Regions from separate parts of the Homo sapiens genome. Here region 2 is linked to region 1. The links come from fine-mapping of genetic effects on gene expression. A gene starts in region 1. The other region holds a variant in brackets. All regions are shown on one strand. Distances are from middle to middle. Region 1 holds the start of CHST7 (carbohydrate sulfotransferase 7). Region 2 overlaps SLC9A7 (solute carrier family 9 member A7).

The links.
Region 2: its variant is fine-mapped to the expression of CHST7 in whole blood (TOPMed, PIP above 0.99).

Annotation. Positions count from the first base shown.
Region 1 is chrX:46,567,996-46,578,938 of GRCh38, reverse strand. CHST7 (carbohydrate sulfotransferase 7) reads right to left here and starts at 5,174. Exons shown (of 2, transcript NM_019886.4): 1 at 3,516-5,174. The coding sequence starts at 5,007. The coding sequence ends at 3,547. RefSeq lists silencers at 3,927-3,986, 4,107-4,156.
Region 2 is chrX:46,621,337-46,632,279 of GRCh38, reverse strand. It overlaps SLC9A7 (solute carrier family 9 member A7), which reads left to right. Exons shown (of 17, transcript NM_001257291.2): 14 at 631-694. It overlaps LOC124905182 (a long non-coding RNA gene), which reads right to left. Exons shown (of 2, transcript XR_007068222.1): 1 at 7,923-10,943; 2 at 5,374-7,017. Among named protein-coding and RNA genes, the nearest start is that of CHST7, 53 kb to the right of the region's middle. The variant C/T (reference allele first, on the strand shown) is at 5,449.

The sequences.
Region 1 (10,943 bases):
TTGGCATTAAAAAAATAAATAAAAAAGCTCCTCATGTAAATGTAATGTTCAGCCAGGGCTGAGAACCGCTGGTCTAAGCCAATCACAATGCTCCCATTCCCTTTCACCAATGATTGGGCTAGGGCAGGCTGTATAACCCAGTTTTAGCTAATGAGACATAAAGGGACGTCGGCTGGTAAAGGGGGTTCTGGGAAAGGTGTTATAATTTATTAAGGCTGGGTGCAGTGATTCACATCCATAATCCCAGCACTTTGAGAGGCCGAGGCAGGCAGATAGCTTGAGCTCAGGAGTACGAGACTAACCTGGGCAACACAGTGAGAGCCCCCACTCCCCGCCCATCCCCAATCTTTGCAAAAAAAAAATTTCTTTTAATGAGATTGAGTGGTGGTGTGCACCTGTAGTCCCAGCTACTTGGGAGGCTGAGGTGGGAGGATTGCTTAACCCTGGGAAGTTGAGGCTGCAGTGAGCCATGACATTGCACTCCAGCCTGGGTGAAAGATTGGATGTGGTGGTACGCACCTGTGGGCCCAGATGCTTGGGAGGCTGAGGTGGGAGGATCACTTGAGCCTGGGAGGAGGAAATTGCAGTGAGCCAAGATTACACCACTGTACTCCAGCCTGGGTGACAGAGTAAGAGCTGCCACTCAAAAAAAAAAAAAAAAAAAAAAAAGAGCATGGCAGGAGGAAAAACCCCTCCACCCCTTACTGGCTAGATAGCTTCCTTCCTTTCTGTATTTTAATAACCCTGTGTCGTTGTGTGAAGATGTTTTGCTTGGAGCTGTGGCTACCATCTTGTTACAGTGGGAAGATAAGCCAGTGAATGAAAGCCAAGATGTAAAAGATAGAAAGGGCCTAGGTCCTTGGTGACTTGGTTCAGGGTGCTACGGCCCCTACCCAGACCAGAAAAAACTTCACTGACTCCCTCACTGCCAAATCCTGGCCATTGGGTATGGACCATCCAGAAGTTACTCAGGTTAATTCACATGTGGCCTCTCTCCTCAGTTGAGCTGAGGGCACCCTGAGATGCCCTGTGGGGAGGATGGCTGTAAAGTTGTCGGCTTTCCTGTGTAGGCACTGTCGGCAGCTCAGGGATATTTTATTTGTTCAGTGGTTGGGACATATTAGTAATAAAGCTGAGTGTGTTTTCCACCTCATACTAGCCTAGCTGGAGTATCAGGGTGCTGCCAGGGAATGCCAAGGCAGGGGCCAGGTGAGGTATAAAAGAGAGGATTATGAGCTCTGGAGTCTAACACCAAACACTGTTCCACCCTCACCAGCCCAGGTATGACTTTGGGCAAATTACTTCTCTGAGTCTCGGATTCCTCATCTGGAAAACTGGTATAAATAATGATATATGTACAATGCCTAACTCAGTGCATGACACATAGCCCTTCAGTAAGGATCCCTCCCCCTCTCTTCTCCTCCCTTCTCTAGAATAGAGTGTGACAAACTTTTGGAAAACCCATCAGTGAGTCGGCAGTAACGTTATCTTCCTAGGAACCAAGAATACAAGCACTGTAATCAACCCACTGATTGGTGGTAAGTGCCCAATGCGGGAGGAAGGACTCAGTCACTAAAGTCTGGAAGAGCCTAAAGCTTGCTCCCAGATGTCCCTGCAGCCCTGCAAAGGAAGCCCCATCGGCCTTCCAAACAGCAACACCAGTGTCTTCCCTCACAGTCACTGTCACCCACACAGACTCTAACCTCCTAGAGGGCAAAGACTGTCCTCTACCCTCCTCTCTATTCTCTTTAATGCTTCACCCCAGCCAGTACTCAAATAGATGTTAGTAAAAATGAAAAAAAAAAAAAAAAAAAAGCAAAAGTTTCTGGGAGATTGTCATGTCTTAAAGCCATAAAATGCACAGCATTCCGCCCAGGGGAGGAGTTCCCTCAGGCCTGTGAAGAAGGGTTAGGGACAATTACTGTTATATCTGTAAATACAGGATCAGCAGATGAAAGGATGTTTTTGTTAAGATGTGACAAGTCACCCTGTGCCTTACCTTCCATCACTCTGGAAATCAGGAAAGAACACAGACTTCCTAGCAATTTCAGAAACTGACTAAGAAAACCATTTGATTACTGGGAGAAAAATTAGTTAGCCAGCTTCTGAAATCACTCTGAAACCCTGGTTCTGTAACAACAACAAAATCCCTCTTCATTAATATCTTCAACGTTTGTCCTCAGAGCTTCATCTCAGGGGAATGCTGAATTACACTATAAAATAATGAATGGAAACTTAACTCACTTCCGCCCACCCAGCACTACTTTTCCTCCTCCTCTGGACTGACTGCACAGTGCAGAAGGCGGCACCCTTCCAACTCACATAAAGTTTGGGGAAACACACTCCCATGTCACTAAGTAGACTCCTATGGTCAGCACTGTGCAGAACAAACCCTTCCCTCAGGCCATACACTGACCCACACAGAACACATTTTGAGACTGTTTAAGCCCCACTTTAGCATCTTCAGATATACAGAAAAAAACAAAAAACAAAAATGGAAAAACAAAAAAGAGGGGGCAGTGTCTTTTCACAAAGCTCCTCCTGCAGTCACAAACTGCTACTGCCAATTGAAGGCTCCATCTGTCAAACGGATGGGGTGGAGTGGGGGACACCCAACCCTGAGGTCTTGTCGACACTAGAGGAAGCTGACCAGGCAGCTTTTGTGACCTGATGTGAATGGGATATGGTCAAATATCCTGCAAACGCCAGCTACAGGGAGAAGGGGGAAGGGAGAGGAGGAGGGGAAGGGGGAGGAAGAGGAAGAGAGGGAGAGGGGAAATGAGAGAGGGAAGGAGGGGGAGGGGAGACAGAGAGGCGCACATGAGCCAGGGGAAAGCAAGTCTATTCACTACACAAGCGCCTGAGACACACAATGTGCAAGAAGTGTTGCAAGAGCCGCTGGACTGTGCCTGCATGTTTGGAAATTCAGGAGAAAAGCCCTGGAGCCTGCGCATAAAACAGACAGAGAAGAAACATGAAACAGAAAGATTAGGGATAGGTAGGGTTAGAATCAATGCCTTTCCACCAAACTCTCTGCTTTTGGCTTTCTCTGTGCCTGTAAACACCATTGCAAAGTCTCCTCACAGGACAAACTGGCATCAAGATAACTCCATAATCATCAACCTCAAATGGTTTCCGAAATCCTATACTCCACATGTCAATTCCCAGTCTCACGGCTCATTATGACTGTTTCAAACCTTCTCTACTCTCCTCAGCCCTCTGAAACCTCCTACTTCATACAGGGGAATGGGAATGCAGAGACCTGGCTTCCACCTCAGTCACGCCTAAATATCCTCTCTCATCTCAGGATCTCCCTCTAAGGAGGCGCGAGGCTAAGCTGGAGATTCCGATGAATCTACCAAATTCTACGAGCAGGACTTTCCCATCCTCTTGGACCTGATCTGATAGAATGGGATCCAGCATGGTACCCTCCCCCCTACACTTCCCCCTCCCCAGGCCATTCCAGGCTCCCGGAAGACCAGTCCCGGTCCCTGCCTTGCCCCGGGCCACCTTACCCGGATCCGTGCCGGGGACAGGGATGGGAGGCTACGTGGCGCCGTCGGCATCCATCTCCAGCGGCGTCTCCCCTTCCCTGGGCTGCTCCGCGTCGCCCTCCTCTCCGCTGCGAGGGTAGGCGAGCAGACGCATGGCTGGAGCGCAGGCGGCCTCCACCTGGCGCACCTGCTCTCGGCTCAGGCGCTCGCGCCAGGCGTGCACCGCCTCCCGGGCGTCGCGCGCTGACAGGTGGAAGGGCCGGTCGGCGCCGTAGGCCGCGCCGCGAGTCATGTTGAGCGCGAAGGCATCGAGCGCTGCGAGCGCGCGTAGCCCGGAGAAGCGCAGCAGGCGGCGCAGCTGGGCGCGTGGCTGCCGCACCAGGTCCTCATAGCGCAGCCTCAGGTAGCGGCGCCGCAGCCAGGCGGGCGCGCCGCGCGCGAAAAGCAGATCGCGCAGCCAGGCTTCGCAGATCACCTCGAGCGCACCGGTCAGGAAGAAATCGGCGCGCGGCGCGGCGGGCAGCGCGCGAGACTGGCCCCCGGGGCGAGCACCCACGCCGTGCGCCAGCAGCACACGGTGGAAGCGGTCGCCCCTCTGGCGGGTGCGCAGCACCTGGATGCTCTCGCGCAGCAGTCCCTGCCTAGACTTGAGGCGCGAGTTGTGCACCGCCCTCGGGTCGCGGAAAAGCTGCACCACCTTCAGGTTGAGGCCTGGATCACGCAACAGGGGCACCAGCACGCCCAGATCGAGCAGGCGCACGTCCTTGATGACCACCACCGGGTACTTTCGGCACTCGGCCTCCAGGGCGCGTATCGCCACGGGTGGGCAGCTGCGCTCGCAGGCGGTGTCCTCGACGAGGCCCACCTCGGCCCGGGCACGGGGTGCGCCAGGACACAGTGGCGGCGAGCAGATGACCTTGTTAGTCCGCCAGCGGAAGAGGGCGGCCGTGGTAAGATTGGCCGTGTCCGGGGCGCGCGCAGCGGGGTCCCCCGGCGGCGCGTACAGCCGCAGCACGGAGAAGTCGCAGCGGAAGAGCGAACGCAGCATGTCGCGCAGCGCGCCCTGCAAGCTCTCGGCGTCGCCCGGATACAGCGCCTGCCATAGATGCCACATGGGCTCATACAAGTAGAAAACGTCCGGGTGCTGGTTAAAGAGTTCGCCCAGGAAGGACGAGCCGGTGCGCCAGGTGGCATGCACGTAGATGTGCTGCTTCTCGCGAGACACTGCCTCCCCGACAGCGCCGCTGAGGTTGCTTGGGAACCGAGGAGACTGGTTCGCGCCCCCTTCCTCGGCGGCCCGCGCCTCCGCTCCCTGCTCGCGTTCGCCGGCCGCCGCCGCCTCCAGGCTCCACACTCCCAGGCTGCGCTGCAGGCCGGGGCAGTGCTCGGCGCCCTTGTCCCCGTCGCGGCCGCCGTCCAATACGGAGGGGACGAGCAACAGCACCAGCGTGTACAGCACCAACAGCAGCGCGAACTTGCAGTACTCTCGGCGTCGCCGCCGCCGGCCCTTCATCGTTCACCGACCCTCCAGAGCGGGTCGGGCGCCAGTCTTCTCCCGTTCCTCAGAAATCCCGTGCCAGGTCCGCTCCTGTGGCCTCTCCCGGCCCCTCTGCGCCGGGAGGAGCAGAGCCGCGGGGCCGCGCATCCACAAGGGGAAACTTGGAAGGCGGTGGTGCTACTGACGGCGCCCCTGCCCTCTCGGCTTAGCAGCCGGAGAGCCGCCTATTGGCCGGCTTGGCAGCCGCCCGCCCCGCCTTTCTGCCCGCCTGGGTTCGCCCACGGCTCTGCCAGATCTGGGCGGGGCTGTAGCGGGGCTGGGACGCCGGCTTACCCAGCCAGACCCCCACCTTTCCCCAAACCCTCCGTAATGAAGTCTTCATCAATGACTTCAGGCAAAGGAGGGGCCTGTGTGTACAGAATGTACCCAGTAAAGGGCCATAGACCCCACCCGGAGAAGGTCACTGCCTCTTCTGTTTTATGTCCCCTGCCTAGCCATCGCTATCCTAGGCAGATAAACACTCGCCACTATACATCCAGCGCCCCCATCAGCCCTGGAGTGGGTGTTACTGAGTTCCGGACTGAAAGATAGAAGATTGTACGTGGCAGAGCGGTCCAGGGGGGTTGGAGATACTACTGCATCCACGCAGCACATTTCATAAAGTCTAGCCTTTGTGAAATTCTAAGTGTTGTGTTCCTTAGGGTTTCACCAGCTGATGGGCTCTGCACATTTTACCAATACTCTGGGGCCCAGTTTGGTCATTTGTAAAATGTGAATAATTCTTAGTACCCATGTACCTCCTGGGATTGCGAGATTTGGGGGTTGTTACCACAGTATAACCCAGCCTATTCTGACACCTATGAGCAAAAGACATTTACAGAATCAAAGTGGTAGAATGGTGACCTTTCTCAGGAGCTCGGTGTTTAAAAGGACCCGTAAGAAGAAATGTGTACCCAAAGATAGATGAAAAAGAGACAGGAAGTCCAACAGGCAGATGAAGACTAGAGTTACTAAAATTCAAAACAGAACCAAAAAAGATACATTTTGCTCTGTTTCATCAGGCTAATGAATAAGGAAGTGAGAGCTTCCTTTCACCAGCTTGGGGAAGGTGTTGTAAAGTTAATAAAACATAGAAAGCATATCTACTTATCTCCACCAGGGGAAGGTGTTCAAATTGGAAGAGTGAGAACATATGCAATGCTCTCCACTGGTCTTTTTCATCACGGAAGCTACTCCACCTGTGAAACCACTGACTCAAGCATTTCGTTTTCTTTCCACAATTCCCCTCTTCTTCCAGCCAGTTGTTCAAATCTTCCCTATTCTCCAACCTCCACTTTTTGACCACCACCCCCACTTTCTTCTCAATTTTTCATATTCAGCTGAAAGATGCCATACCATTATTTTAATAACACTCCCTCCAATAAGCTAAACTCACGTGCCCTCTGCCTTTTCATTACTCATCTAGCAAAATCCCCCAAACCCTGCTTTTGGCTTTCTCTGTGCCTGCAAACACCACTGCGAAACATTTCTCCACAGGTGTGAGCCAGGCACAGTGGCTCACGCCTGTAATCTCAGCACTTTGGGAGCCCACAGAACAGATCAGCATCAAGATAACCTCATAATCATCAACCTGAAATGGTTGCTGAAATCTTAGGTTCTTCATGTCACTTCCCAGTCTCCAGTTCCATTATGATGATTTCAAACCTTCTCTAGTCTCCTCAGACTTCTGATACCCCTCTTCCCCCACCCACCTCTTCTCAGCACATGACCTTACTGCCTACTTCATAAAGAAACCATGTTAGACGATCTCTCACTTTTCCACTACCAAACTCATATATGCATTGACCTCTGTACACATCTCGTTTATAGCAAGGATATGATTTTGCAATATTAATCTACAACTTTCCCTTCTGTTTTCACTTTTCCCTCCTCTCTGGCTTTTTTAAAAAGCTTTGAGACAGGGTCTGGCTCTGTCACCCAGGCTGGAGTGCGGTGGCACTATCACCACTCACTGCAGCCTCAACCTCTCAAGCCCAAGCGATCTTCCTACCTCAGCCTCCCAAGCAGCTGAGACCACAGGCATGTGGACCACACCCAGCTAATTTTGTTTGTTTGTTTGTTTTTTGTAGAGACCGGGGTCTGTATGTTGCCCAGGCTGGTCTTGAACTCGTGGGCTCAAGTGATCCTCCCACTTCGGCCTTGTGCTGGGATTACAGGCCTGAGCTACTGTGCCTGGCCTCCTCTCATCTTTTAAGCAAGTAGGTGGCTCTGTGCTGGTGTGAGGGGAGAGGTGTGGCTGGGCAGAATGCAAATAGTTGCTGGTGTTTCCCGCTTCCCCCCACCCCCCGCCCTCCGCTCCAAAAGCCTCAACTCTGATAGTGGAAAGTGTGATAGGTTTTTTAAATAACCACAAAGTATTCCCCTCCTCTGTTTTGCCTTTGGGCAATGCCTTCCCATACTGACTCTGGGATGACCATGTGGCTTGCATTGGCCTGTGGGACAGTAGCAAACATGACACAGCAAAGGTTTGAAAAATACTCCTGCTGTGGGAATTGCCCTCATCCTGCTCTTTGGAACCCTGAGATCGGCTCGTGAAGAAGCCTGGGTTAGCAACATGGCTCAGAAAATAAGCCCTCCCAGCTGAGGCCCCCCACCCCCCAGACAAACAAGCCTGCTGACCGCCAGACAGGTGAGAAAGGAGATAGATCCTCGACCAGTGCTTCTCAAACTTTAATGCTTGAAGGCTCCTGTCAAAATGCAGAAAGTGGGCCTGGCCCAGTGGCTCACACCTGTAATCCCAACGCTTTGGGAGGCCGACGCGGGTGGGTATCCTGAGCCTAGGAGTTCAAGACCAGCCTGGGCAACATGGTGAAACCCCGTCTCTACCAAAAACACAAAAAAAGTTAACCAAGCATGGTGGCGTGCACCTGTAGTCCCAACTACTTGGAAGGCTGAGGCGGGAGGATCACTTGAGCCCAGGAGGTGGAGATTGTAGTGAGCCGAGGTCATGCCACTGCACTCCAACCTGGGTGACAGAGTGAGACCTCATCTCAAAAAAAAAAAAAAAGCAGAAAATGATTCATTACACCTAGGGTGGGGCCAGAGAGACTACATTTCTTTTCTTTCTTCTTCTCCTTCTTCTTTCTTCTTTCTTCTTCTTTTTTTAAATAGACAGGGTCTTCTCTCCCTCTGTCACCCAGGCTGGTGGAAGGCTGGAGTGCAGTGGCGTGATCATAGCTCACTGCAGCTTCAACTTCCTGGGTTCAAGCAATCCTTCTCATGCCTGGCTAATTAAAAAAAATTTTTTTTTAGGCTGGGCGCGGTGGCTCACGCCTGTAATCCCAGCACTTTGGGAGGCCAAGGCAGGCGGATCACGAGGTCAGGAGTTGGAGACCAGCCTGGCCAATATGGTGAAACCCCATCTATACTAAAAATACAAAAATTAGCCAGGTGTGGTGGCACATGCCTGTAGTCCCAGCTACTCGGGAGGCTGAGGCAGAAGAATCACTTGAACCCGGGAGGCAGAGGTTGCAGTGAGCCAAGATCGTGCCACTGCACTCCAGCCTGGGCGACAGAGTGAGACTCCATCTCAAAAAAAAAAAAAAAAATTGTAGGGTCTTGCTATGTTGCCCAGGCTGGTCTTGGACTCCTGGCCTCAAGCAATCCTCTTGCCTCGTCCTCCCAAATTGCTGGGATTACAGGCACGAGCCACTGCACTGGGTCCTGAGACTACATTTCTAATAAGCTCCTGGGTGCTTCTGATGCTCCTGGTCTGAGGACCACACTTAGAGTAGAAAGGTGCTACACCTTCCTGCCCTAACTGAGCTGACCCACCAAATTGTGAGAAATAATAGATGTAAGTTTTAGGGGTTTGTTTTGTAGCAAAAGCTAGCTGATATAAAGAAGGTGTGAGGGCTTAGACGAAATGTTTTGGAGAAGCAAAAGAAAGAGCAGCAGCACTCTAGTGCCCCCAACCCCACTGAGACATTTTCCTTAGGCTAGGAGGAGTGGGCAAAGGGAGAAGTCTATGGATCCTGCAGCCCAGGGCACCTGAACTCTTTTTCCTGGCAATGTGTCAGGGCAGAGCAGGAGTCAAAGAGAAGTGGCCACATGGTTCAGCTTGACAGAGATGATCAGGGGCACTGTGCCAAACCTTCCTGGGCCCCAGGCATAGCTTGGAAGCAGCAGAAGGGTCAAGTGACAGTGATGGAGACATCTCAGGGCAACTAGGTGAGCCAAAAACCCAATGATTCTAAGACCCCAGATCAAGAGTACATACAACCTTGGGAGTAGAGGAACCCTAGGAATTAATAAGGTCAATCAATGGTCTGTCATCCTAGCAGAAGGAAAACTCAATCAGAATTAAAGTTGTTTTCTATTAAGTGATTTCTATCACATCTAAGTTACTAGATCTGCTATCCATTTTTCACAATAGAGTGGTACAATAGAGTAGGCCCCGGTCCCTCCTATCAATCACCATTTCTCCTCCCTATTCAACTACACCCTCTCAACCAGATTATTTCCACTGATGTGAAAATTAAACAGTTTGATCTCTTTCTCTGTTTCTTCCTCTATCTCTCTCTCTTTAAAGTCCCATTTATTTGCATCCTCCTTTAGCATAGCTGCTGCTAACACATACAGTACCCTTGTGAGAATCAGAAAGTGCCCCCTCCAGACAGATGAATTGCAAGGGGGCTGACCCCATTCAAATAAGTACCCCTTCCTTCAGGCCACAGCCCCAGTCCAAGGTTAACAGCTTGAAGGCAGAACCTGGCCAGATTCTAGCCCGCTGTTGCATCTTTCTGCCAGGTACCCTCACTCTGCCCTTCTCCTACCCTTGTCCTGTTGCCACTGGTTTCTCTACCCACTCCTCACAGCCCAGCTTCTTAGTAGAGCTGTCTATACTAGTTCTCTCTGTGCTCTCATCTCCTACTCATTCTGTGGCAGGCCAGGTCTCCCTAACGGCTGAACAGGCAGGCCTCCCTAACAACTGTTTCAGCACTGAGTGGTTAAGCTAACTATTAAAAGCTAAGAGAGCCAGTGCCCTTATACAAAGGCTGGAAGGTAACAAAAGCACACCAAGAGTTTTGCCTAGGTCTTTCCTGGGCCTTGAAGCGTGACAAGAGAAGGAAGGAGTTCTTAACAGGACCCATTTAAGATTAAACAAGTTTCTCTGGGTGCAGTGGTTCATGCCTGTAATCCCAGCACTTTGGGAGGCCGAGGCAGGCAGATCACTTGAGGTCAGGAGTTCGAGACCAGCTTGGCCAACATGGTGAAAACTCGTCTCTACTAAAAATACAAAAATTAGCCGGGCGTGGCATGCACCTGTAATCCCAGCTACTTGGGAGGCTGAGGCAGGAGAATCACTTGAACCTGGAAGGCGGAGGTTGCAGTGAGCCGAGATTGAGCCACTGCACTCCAGCCTGGGCAATGAGTGAGACTGTGTCTCAAAAAAATAAAATAAAATTTAAAAAGATTAAGCACATGTTATTAGTGGTCTGAAGGAACTCCCCAAACCTCCATGATTTAGCAGGAGATAAGATAAGGGCAATCACCCCAGCACCTGGATCCATTTAGATTAAGTAAATTTACTGAGGCTCCAGAGGAAGGTCTTCAGGACTCAGACCTTAGTTATAGATTAGAAGAAGTTAATCACTTATGTCTTTAGATGAATGCACACTTACACGTAGACATGTAGCTTAGAAGGTATGTAAGCTCTGGAAAACTTTGTAATTTTGAGTTGGTCTGGTGATAATTTCCAGGCCTTCTCCCTGCACCTGGTTACAGAAATAAAAACTCTCTTCTTTCCCAGTTCACCTGCATCTTGTAATTGGGCTGAGAGAATAAGCAGTCCGACCCTCGGCTTGGTCCAGGAACAATTCCTCAGCACACTCCAATCTGAGTTCTGCCCCCATATTGCCACATCATCAGTTCTTTCTAAGCTTATCAAT
Region 2 (10,943 bases), 53 kb before region 1:
TCAAGGAGAGACTCTTTGTCAATATGCACGTGAAGTATTTAGGGGAAGTATTCTGATGTCTGCAACTTTATCTGAATGTATCCAAAGAAAAAGTAAGATGGGTGATAGAGAAATGGATAGATAGGTAATAAGGAATATACAGTAAAATGTTAATGGTAGAGTCTAGTGATGGTGGGTATATAGGGGTTCACTCTAAAGTCTTTCAACATCTCCCTGTATATTTGAAAAAGTTTATAACAGAATGTTAGAGAAATTAAAGCAGGCCAGGGCAGAAGTGAGGAAGCAGCACAAAGGAAGGGCCCAGTGCAGTGAGACCCCCATTTTGATAACTGGGACCACCTGGTGCAGAAAAGCAAGTGGACAGTTGCCAGCATGTGTTGTGTTCCGGCGGCCTTGCTTAGAGTGTGAGCACATGGGATTCATCGCCCCTCTGACCCTCTGGGATCTGAAGTGGTATGCGACCTCTTTCTTATGACTTCTGCATGACAGCTTTCCTCACCTTTTAGCTAACCACTCCTTATGCTTCGGGAAGATGATTAGCCTCCAGGCTACTTGCAGCCTGCATGGCTACCATGGGCCAAGCTAATACGCTCTGTTTTTCTCTTTGTCTTTCTCCCTGGTGACTTTCAGAGTTGGTGTTGACCCCGATCAAGACCCACCACCCAACAACGACAGCTTTCAAGTCTTACAAGGGGTAAGTCACAAGAGATGCTTCTTCCTGGGGAAGACATTTGAGCATTCGCCACATGCCAGGCACTTTACCTAGATTCCCTCAATGTGATCCTGACAACAGCCTTATGAAGCGTGTACTGCTCTCCCCATTTTACAGATTAAAAGTTGAAGTTTGGGAGTTTGAGTCATCTCAGAATAAGTGATGGAGCCAGGATTTGTCCCCAGGGTATGTGTTCTTAATCAACATTATGAAGGGTGTGGGCTCGCCAGAAAGAGTCCCTGACTCTCCACTTTTCAATAGTGGATATTGGTTCTACAACTGGTTCCGAGTCTATCAGTGGTGCCCAGGAGAAAGAGAGCAATACGATTTGACTCTCCAGCCCAGGGATCTGAGGAAGAAAGGAGAGACATCAGGTGCCTGAAGGCATTCCTGTTTCTCCAGGGCCTGGGATCCTCTAGGTGAGCAATTTGGAAAGGGCATAGCAGGGACGGCTTGCCTTTTCTCCATGAAGTCCACGGCCCCAGGTGGGAAAACCAGGAGCCTGGGGCTGGAATCATGCAAAGGTTCATTTACTCATATGTCTGGCACCTGGGCTGGAAGGACCCAACCACAAGGACTTCTGACAGGAATGTCTGTGCAGGGCTTTTCCATGTGGCCTGAGCTGCCTGCCAGCATGGTGGCTGCTGGGTAGTTGGATTTCTTATGTGATGGCTTAAGGTTCCAAAAGCAAGTGTCCCAGCAAGCAAGGTAGAGGCTATATCACCTTTTCTGACCTAATCTTGCAAGTTCTACAGCATCACTTCCGTGGCTTTCTATTGCTTAGAAATGCATTCCTAAGACCAGCCCAGACCCAATGGGAGGGGATAGAGACCATAACCTCTGGATGGGAAGAGTATCAACAAATTTACAGACAAGAATTGAGGTTGCCATATCATCCCTGTTGTGCAGCTGTCGGGATGATTTTGTCTCTAGGTCTGGCTCTTTATCCAGGTCAGCATGACCTGGGCAGGCAAGGTGGGGAAAGGAGAGTTATGATAGGGGCAGAAATGTGTTACCAATATATTATTTGACCTTGGGAGTCAATAACTATGTCGTTCAGCATTGAATGCCCAGTGCTGAGCACAGTGGCTGGCACATGCAGGAACCTGATAGGTGTTTGTTGGGTGGATGAGGGAATGAGAGAGATGCAGCATGCAACAGGCAGCTTTACTGACCACCTGTGTATGTTGTCCATGAAACCCTATTCTTTTTTTTCCAGTCAGCTTTGAATCTGACTCATCATTGCACTTAATCCTGCAGCAGTCTGCAGCAGACTTCACATTCCATAGGATCTTCTAAATGATTCCATCTACCAAATCAGATTTAATAAGGCTGGCAAAATGTGGTGCTGTGTGGGGTCAATGGGGTGCCACTGTGGCCTTTTGTGGTTTCTTTCTCTTTAAGGGTGGCCACAGCCTGATAAGGCATTTATAGCATTGATGTCCATTCTAGGTCCCTGCTCAAGGGACACAAAGCCATGACCTGGAAAGTTCTGGACATTTTGGGAAGAGTTTTCAATAAGCTTCATTGGAGATTTGGCACCCACTTTAATGAGCTCCAGAAGACCTTTGAGATGATCTTAGAATTGGCCATTATGTCAGTTGGGAGCATGTGGTCTCAGTGAGTTCTCTTTGAAAATTTGCTATTTGACTCTAGCTTTGATTAAGGACTTTAGAAAACAGGAGTTCAGGAACTGAGCACCTCGAGGCTAATTTAGAGTATAACAGTTTGGGAGATCTTGAAACTCAGCCTGAGAAAACCCCAGGGGAAAACATGATGGCCGTCCTTATTTCACCAAAGGAAAGATAATGGCTCTGGTAGGACATGGCTGCCCTATTCTAAAGCATCCTCCACAGAACTGTGGCCAGTCTAGATTAATTTTGTAAGAAAAAAAGGCCAATAGCAGCTGGATCATAAGATTTGGAGAGATTTCATCTTGCTCTGGACCATTCAAAACATCCCCACCCCCTTTGCTGTTTCCCATTGCTCCTACCTCTGCATTCAAGCATCTGTAACAGGAAATAAGTGAAAGGATTTGGCTGGTCATGTAGTAGAACTTACTATGTATCACATGAGCCCTGCGCACTGGGAACACTGGGCTTGTAATTAGATTCAGTAACAAGCTTACTGTCACTTTTCTGTGGAAATGTTTGAGTGAGAAAGCAGCAGGTCCAAAGTGCTGAGGGTTCTTGTATTTAGTCCATGCAGTAACAGCTAAAATAGCCCCCACCCCCAGGTGGAGTGAGTCTCAGGAACCTCCCTGGATGGGCCTGGATGGATGAACTCAGTGTTCCTGTCAGCTCCCAGAGGGCCCCTTGGGCTGAGAGCACCGCACATGTGGTGTTGTGAACGGGCTGGCAGCCACTCGCGCTGCACTCCTAATGGCACCCTGTTTGCCACAGCCCTAGCCAGAAGCTGTGTCACAGCTTCCCCCTGACCTCCTTCCTTCCAGACCTCATACACAGTCATGCAGAGGGCCCCTCAAAGTCAGTTCCACTGACCTTTTGAAAGGTTTTCAAGATTGCTGTCATATGGGGAAAAACATGCAAACTTCAAGCTTGGTTCTCCAGGACACCCTCTTAGAAATGACTCACGCCCTTGTGCAGAGAGGACCTTATTTCTCCAGTTCCTCCTGGTCTGACCTCCTCATTCTAGTGAGCCACTAACAGCAGGGCTCAGTGCACTCTGTGGCCATGAGAAACAGGAAAACAGAAATAAATGGGCTTCTCATTTTTGGGTGAAACCCTGGGTTCTTGCAGTTTCCCCTGAAATAGATCCAGGTCACATGCTCAGTGTTGTCATGAAACTGAAATCAGAGGTAGGGAAAGTCCAGATGTTTGTTCTCCACCAGAGAAAAAAAAGGGCGGTTCTCTTTACCTCATTTTCTAAATAATCTTCCTAAAAACAACAAACAAAAAAGTGACATTTGATGGGAAGGCATGTCTTATAATGAGCACAATTCTCCTCACTGGTCTTGAAGCCCAAGGCTATAAACAGAGTCATGGCTAGGGAGCTACAGAATATTAGCTCATGTGGGAAAAGGAAGGGAGCTGTTGGCTAGAACTTTGCTTCATGTGGGGAAAGCATAAAAATATTGTGGGCAGACTTCAGCTTTGTGTCCCCTGGTAAGTTTGACTCATTAGAACAAAACAAGACAAAAAAAACAAAAAACAAAAAACAAAACTCAGTGCTTTGTTTCTCTGGAGGTCTTGGTGACTTTGCAACCAAAACAAAAACAACCCTAGCTGGAGGCAAGCTGCCCAGCCCTGGGGGTGGCCTCCCACCCCGATAAAGCAGGGGACTTTTCATGCCAGACCAGACAGCTGAGATTTCTGTTGGCCGTACATGCAGACACATCATTCACTTCCTTCCCTGAGTTTACAGAAGAGCACTCATTGATGAGGCCACTTTGGAGCAGCTAAGAGTGTGAATCTGAATTTATCCCAGTTTCACCATATCAACAGGACAAGGTCACAAGCCGGATATTAATGGAGTGTGGAGGAAAGGAAACCACCAATGCCTGTGTATATGCACACGTGTGTGCGTGTCTGTCTGTGTGTATGTAGTGAAAACTGTAGAAAATCAGCAGTTTATTGTTGCGTTCACATATGACTTTCTGAGCAAGTTAGAATCATTTGTTTCTGGGTCCTCCGTGTTTTTTTTTGTTTGTTTTTGTTTCTCCAGGCTGAAATCTGATACCCGTAAATCTGTCACCTAAATCTTTAACTTCAAACAGTTGCAGAGGTGCCTTTCCTCCAGTTGCTACTCTGTGACCACCGCCCCCCCCCCAACCCGCCCATTTTTTTGTGCTTCCAAGTGCCTCCCTTGGCCCCTGATTTCCCTTTCTGCTCTTCCTTTTCTGTTTTCTAAAAACTCAGAGTCAAGATCAATTTATTCATTTATTTGACAAATAGTTATTGAGCACCTGTTCTATTTCAGGCATTCTTTCAGGTTCTGGGAAAATATCTGCAACAAGGTAGATGAATCTGCATCCTGAAGGGCTTGGTGACAAGGTGATAAAGGGTGAGGGTGGAGAGTGGCAGAAGCAAGAGAGTGGAGACACTCAGGCCTCACCAGCCCCACTGAAGCAGAATCTGCATTTTAACAGTGTCTCCAGGGAATGTGTGTACATTTTACCATTAGAAAAGCCCTGATCTAGGCAATGTATAGCTCTGGAGAGTTTTAAGCAGGGAAGAAAACTATCTGTGTATCACGGTCAGAGATTTGACTCTGGTTTTTTTTTTGTTTTGTTTTGAGACAGGGTTTCCCTCTGACGCCAAGGCTGGAGTGCAGTGGTGCAATCACAGCTCATTGCAGCCTTGACCTCTTGGGCCCGAGGGATCCTCCTCCCTCGGCCTCCTGAGTAGCTAGGACCACAGGTGTGTGCCACTTCACCAAGCTAATTTATAAAATATTTTTCTAGAGACAGGGTCTTGCTTTGTTGCACAGGCTGGTCTCAAACTCCTGGGCTCAAGTGATCTTAACCCTCCCAAAGTGCAGGGATTACAGGCATGAGCCCACTGCCTGGCTGATTCCCTGTTTCTAAACCCTATTATTACCCTCTGCTGAGAAATCTTGGATCCATTATCCCAATGATATGACAAAGGCCCTGTATTAGTCCATTCCCACACTTCTATAAAGAACCACCTGAGGCTGGGTAATTTATGAAGAAAAGGTTTAATTGACTCATAGTTCTGCAAGCTGTACAGGAAGCATAGCTGGGAGGCCTCAGGAAA[C/T]GCACAATCATAGTGAAGGCAAAGGGGAAGCAAACACATCTTACCATAGCGGAGCAGGAGAGAGAGAGAGCAAGGGGGAAGTGCCGCACACTTTTAACCAGATCTCGTGAGAACTCACTCACTATCACAAGAACAGCAAGGGGGAAGTCTGCCCCCATGATCCAGCCACCTCTTACCAGGCCCCACCTCCAACGCTTAGGATCACAACTTGAGATGAGACTTGTGGGGGTACACAGAGCCCAAACATACCAGGCCCAGGCCGGGCGTGGTGGCTCACACCTGTAATCCCAGCACTTCGGGAGGCCAAGGCAGGTGGATCACCTGAGGTCAGGAGTTCAAGACCAGCCTGGCCAACATGGCAAAACCCCATCTCTACTAAAAATACAAAAATTAGCTGGGCATGGTGGCAGGCACCTGTAATCCCAGCTACTTGGAAGGCTGAGGCAGGAGAATCGCTTGATCCCGGGAGGCGGAGGTTGCAGTGAGCCGAGATCACACCACTGCACTGTAGCCTGGGTGACACAGCGAGACTCCATGTCCGAAAAAGAAAAAAAGCATATCAGGCCCAAATCAAGTGACATCATTTATTTACTCTTCTGCTCCATATTAGTTGTCTGTGACTGCTGTAACAAATTACCACAAATTTAGTGGCTTAAAACAATAAAGTTTTGTTTTTGTTTTTGTTTTTTTTTAAGGGACAGAGTTTCACCATGTTGGGGCTGGTCTTGAACTCCTTGGCTCAAGTGATCTGCCTGTCTTGGCCTCCCAAAGTGCTGGGATTATAGGCATGGGCCACCATGCCCAGCCAAAACAATACAGTTTTGTCATCCTTACAGTTCAGTAGATCAGATACCTGGTGGGCTCAGCTGGTTTCTCTGCTTCAAGTTTTTCAAGGTGTTGGCAAGGCTAAGCTCTGGGGAGAAGCCACTTCCAGGCTCATTCAGGTTGTCAGTAGAATTCAGTTCCATGTGGTTGTAGGACTGAGGTCCTGTGTTCTTGCTGCAAAGCCAGCAACAGTGGGGCAAGTCAAGCTCTGAATCTCTCCCGCCCTTTCTTCTACTGCATTCCTTCCTCTGACTCTTTTGCCCTCCATGTCCTTTTTTTTTTTTTTTTTTTTTGAGAGAGAGACAGTCTTGCTCTATTGCCCAGGCTGGAGTGCAGTGATGTGATCTCAGCTCACTGCAACCTCCACCTCCCAGGTTCAAGCAATTCTTGTGCCTCAGCCTCCTGAGTAGCTGGGATTACAGGTGTGTGCCACCACACCCAGCTAATTTTTGTATTTTCAGTAGAGACCGGGTTTCGCCATGATGGCCAGGCTGGTCTTGAACTCCTGACCTCAAGTGATCTGCCCACCTCAGCCTCCCAAAGTTCTGGGATTACAGGCGTGAGCCACTATGCCTGGCCCTCCTTGTCCACTTTTAAGGGCCCACGTGATTGTCCTGGGCCTACCTGGATAACCTTAAGTCCATCCACAAAGCCTTTTGCCAGGTAGTGTAACAGGATCCAGGGATTAGGCTGTAGAAAGCTTTGGTGGGGTGGCCATTATTCTGCCTACCACATGCTCCATCCCTGAAAAAAAAAAAAAAAGTAAGCTGTTCTTATTAGTGTAATGACCTTATCTTTTAAAAACATCTTTTAATATTATATAAGAATGGAATGAAATGTAACTCTACACAGATATCATTATGCATTCATTCTAGAAAAATTATTTCAAAAATAGGACTGTTTGCTATTCCCCAGTTCTTTAATCAGCTTTCTTTTTCTTCATTATATTTGTCAGTCAATATGTATTTGTCTGTCTCCCCTCCCCCTACCCCCCAACCCTCGCCACCTTCACCTTCTGGAAAGAGTGCTCCTTGAGGCCCAGGTGCTAAGTTACATTCCTCTTTGTGTTTCCAGCACCCAGCATGGTGCCTGGCACATAGTAGGTGCTTAATGAATGCAGAAGAAATAGACACTCATTGTTACATGCTCAAAAAATGATAATAAGCAGGGTTGGTGGTATTTTCTTGAAGGGGCTTCTCTATTAATAATGGCAGTAAAAAGATGAAAATTCCTTGTGTAAAAAGCCACACAAGATAGCCAAATGATGTTAATGGCTAGGCGTTTTTTTCCCCCAAACAAATATGTGCTTGAAATTACATATCCAGTCTTTGGAAATGAACTTAATTAGTAATATGAGCTCTAACTACATGCCAGATTCTGGGTTAAATATTTCACAAATATTTAATCAGCACAAAAAGTCACATGGCAAACAATAATGAGTCAATATTTGTTGAGTGCTTGCCACATATCAGACACCATCCTAAGTTCTTTAAATGAAAAATCTTTTACAGTTCTAAAATTAAAACCTATTTTCTCTACATTCACACCACTTTTAATGCCAAATATGTAGGGTCTTTTTGTATACCAGCCAGTTCTCCAATTCCCAATGAGTACCAACTGGACCTCCTACAGTTTAACTCACTACGTACCTGGAGTTAGCGTCAGATCCCACAGGTTAAGGACTCAGTCCCACAAGACTGTCCCCACTTCAGACACCAGTTGCAAGTCCCAGGTCGTGACCTGTACTTCAGACTGACTGGCTATAGGGGGGGGTTCCCAACCCCTCCTCAGGTTCGATAATTTGCTAGAATGACTCACAGAACACAACTTTTACCATTACCAGTTTGTTATAAAGGATACAACTCGGAAATAGCCTAATGGAAGAGATGCATAGGGCAAAGGATGGGGATGGGAGTATGTGGCGCCAACTTGGAAGCCCTCCAAATTGTGTCATTTAGGGTTTTATGGAGGTTTCATTACATAGGCATGGTTGATTAAATTAGTAGCCATTGGTAATTAACTCAATCCCCAGTCCTCCCCTCCTAGGAGGTTGGGATGGGGCTAAAAGTTCCAATCCTCTAATTACATGGTTGGTTTCTCTGGCAATCAGTGTCCATTCAAGAGTCACCTTATTAGCATAAATTCAGGTGTGCTTGAAAGGAGCTTATTATTAATAAAAAAAGATGTTCCTCCCACCCCATCTACTCAGGAAATTCCAAGGGTTTTAGGAGTTTTATGTCAGACAAAAACCAGATATATATTTCTTGTTCTATCACAACATTACAGCCTCATAATGCCCCTAGAGGTAGGTAATTATTAATATTTCCAGTTTACAGATGAGGATACTGAAGCACAGAAAGGTTAGGTAACTTGCCCAGCATCACACAGCAAGACAATGGCAGCGGCACAGTCAGGAGCCAGATAGTCTCTTGAGAGAGCCTGTGATATCCACACCTACACTTCTTGGAGTGCTATGTCGCTTTTGAAACATTTCTTAGAGAAGCCACGCTTCTGCACAGGCTTGAAAGGTGAATAGAGGTTGGCCGGGTAGGTGTTCTGGGTGGGAGAAGGTGAGAGGAAAAAAGAATGCTCCAGGCCCTAGAAGTTGCCTGAGCTGAAGACATGAGGTGCGAACCCAGGTTTTGAGGAGGGGCGAGTTGAGAGAGCAAGTCTGTGCTTTTTCTGTGGACGGCACAGGAGTGGAAAATCCAAGAGTCGCCAAGTACAGCCAGGAAGGAGGCTCCGCCTGTTCCCACAGTGACCCTTCCTCAGTCCGGTGCTGTTCGGAGCCCACAGGAAGGGCTCTCAATGGCTTCTCTGTGACAGCAGCCCCAATCATGTCATGAAGCAGTTATTGCTTGTCTTCCGGGTCAGCTTTAAAAAATTAGTTCTGTCCCACAGAACTGCCCTGATTTCCCCAAAGCCACCATATGTGGATTTATCTAAGTTCTTCCTATACCTAATCATGCTTCTGGCACCATCTCTTGGAATAAGAAGTTGTTTAACACCCTTTTCACAAAGTTACACCTTTGATTTGTCCTGAATTTACCCCTTGTAGCCTCTAAGCGTTGTTTCTTAGTTCTTACATTTCGGGATTTGCTGTGGAGTCTGAGGTCACTTTATCTTATTCATGGATTGCAGGCATATCTTTCCGTAGCCTGAGAAGACCTTTTGTTAGTTTGCTGTCAAACCATTCCCTTGCTTTACTCATTTTAATTGTCTTTTTTGGGGCTTATATAAGTCTCTTGTAGCTTTCTTTTTTTAAATTTAACTTTTAACTTCCGGGGTTCTTGTAGCTTTCTTGAGATTAAATGGCAAGAAATTAAGTAGTCCAGTGATAATAAATGCTTTGTGGTTTTGCAGAGGTTAAGATGACAGAGTAGGGTTCATTGTTTTCATCATTGATTTAAGGGAAGAAGCGGAAGAAACTGACTTTGGGGTACTCGTTTTGTGCCTGATGGTTTAATAGTATCCTTCCTGATGATGTTTATCGTTGTGCTGGCTTTTTCCTTAGTAAAATTCTACAGGCACTTAGAACTGAGAACTTAGAGCCTATTACTTTATAAAGAACCATTTGATTTTTTCCATTATATATTTGCCTATCAAAAAAGTCATCTGCTACTTTTCTACTCAGTCATGTGGCATTTTGGAATCTTCCCAGAGTTGTCATTGGGTTAGCAATCAGTCACCCTGCAAATGGAGGCATTTCTGTGCTCTCTCTCTTGCTCATGATTTATAAAAATGTAAAATCAAATTGGTCTCTGGGGTCTCTCCTTGTTTATATTTCCTCATCCACAGAAGGGCCCATTTAACTGAGCCATTTCCATATCCATCACTAAACATTCCTGAAATACCGAGGGGATTCAATTTTTAAAAATAATCTTTGCTGTTGGAAACTTTAGGAGTGTATTAATAAATAGTGCTTGCTAATTTCTCTCCTTCTCTTGTCTATGTGCTTCTCAAAGATCTTTGATTAATTATTTGATGTTGCCATTGCGGGTAGAATTTACATTCACCATGATTTAAAACTACTTGTAATTTTGGTTCAAGTTGTATTTGGTGATTGTCAATTGTCCCTCACTTGCAGAGTTGCCTCTCCCTGTAATATTAAAGAGAATGATGATAATAATAGCTTCACAAGCAGTCTGTGCTTGCACAGCCCTAGTAGTACCCTCAAATTGCTGCAGTCAGTCTGAGTTTTATATTAACTGTGCTGCTTCTGATACTTGCACAGAACAGATTTCCTAAACCTCAAATGAATGTTTGATTTTGCAGGTTATTTTGAAAGTTACACGATGGGGATGTTTAAACTGGAAGGGCATGAGAGTAGCAAGGAACTTGCTACTTGATGGTAGATAAAATAACAGAATTGTTAGTTCGAGCTCGTTTCTCCTGCCCACTGATCCCACCTTCCTAAAGCTGGTGGGGAAACAAGTACCTTACCACCTGGAGCACAGTGTAGGTCCCTGGGTAAGGACCACAGAGAAGCCTTAACTAGTTTGTCAGGATACTCAACAATATGTGGTTTCCACAGGCCTACTTTGGGGATGAGGATTGGAAAGTTGCTTTTACAAAAAGCTTTTAAAAATATTCGCTATAAATCAATTTTGGCCTGTTAGTATCTAGAGTATTTTAGGGTAATTAATCTGCTGAAAGACACTTTGAGGAAA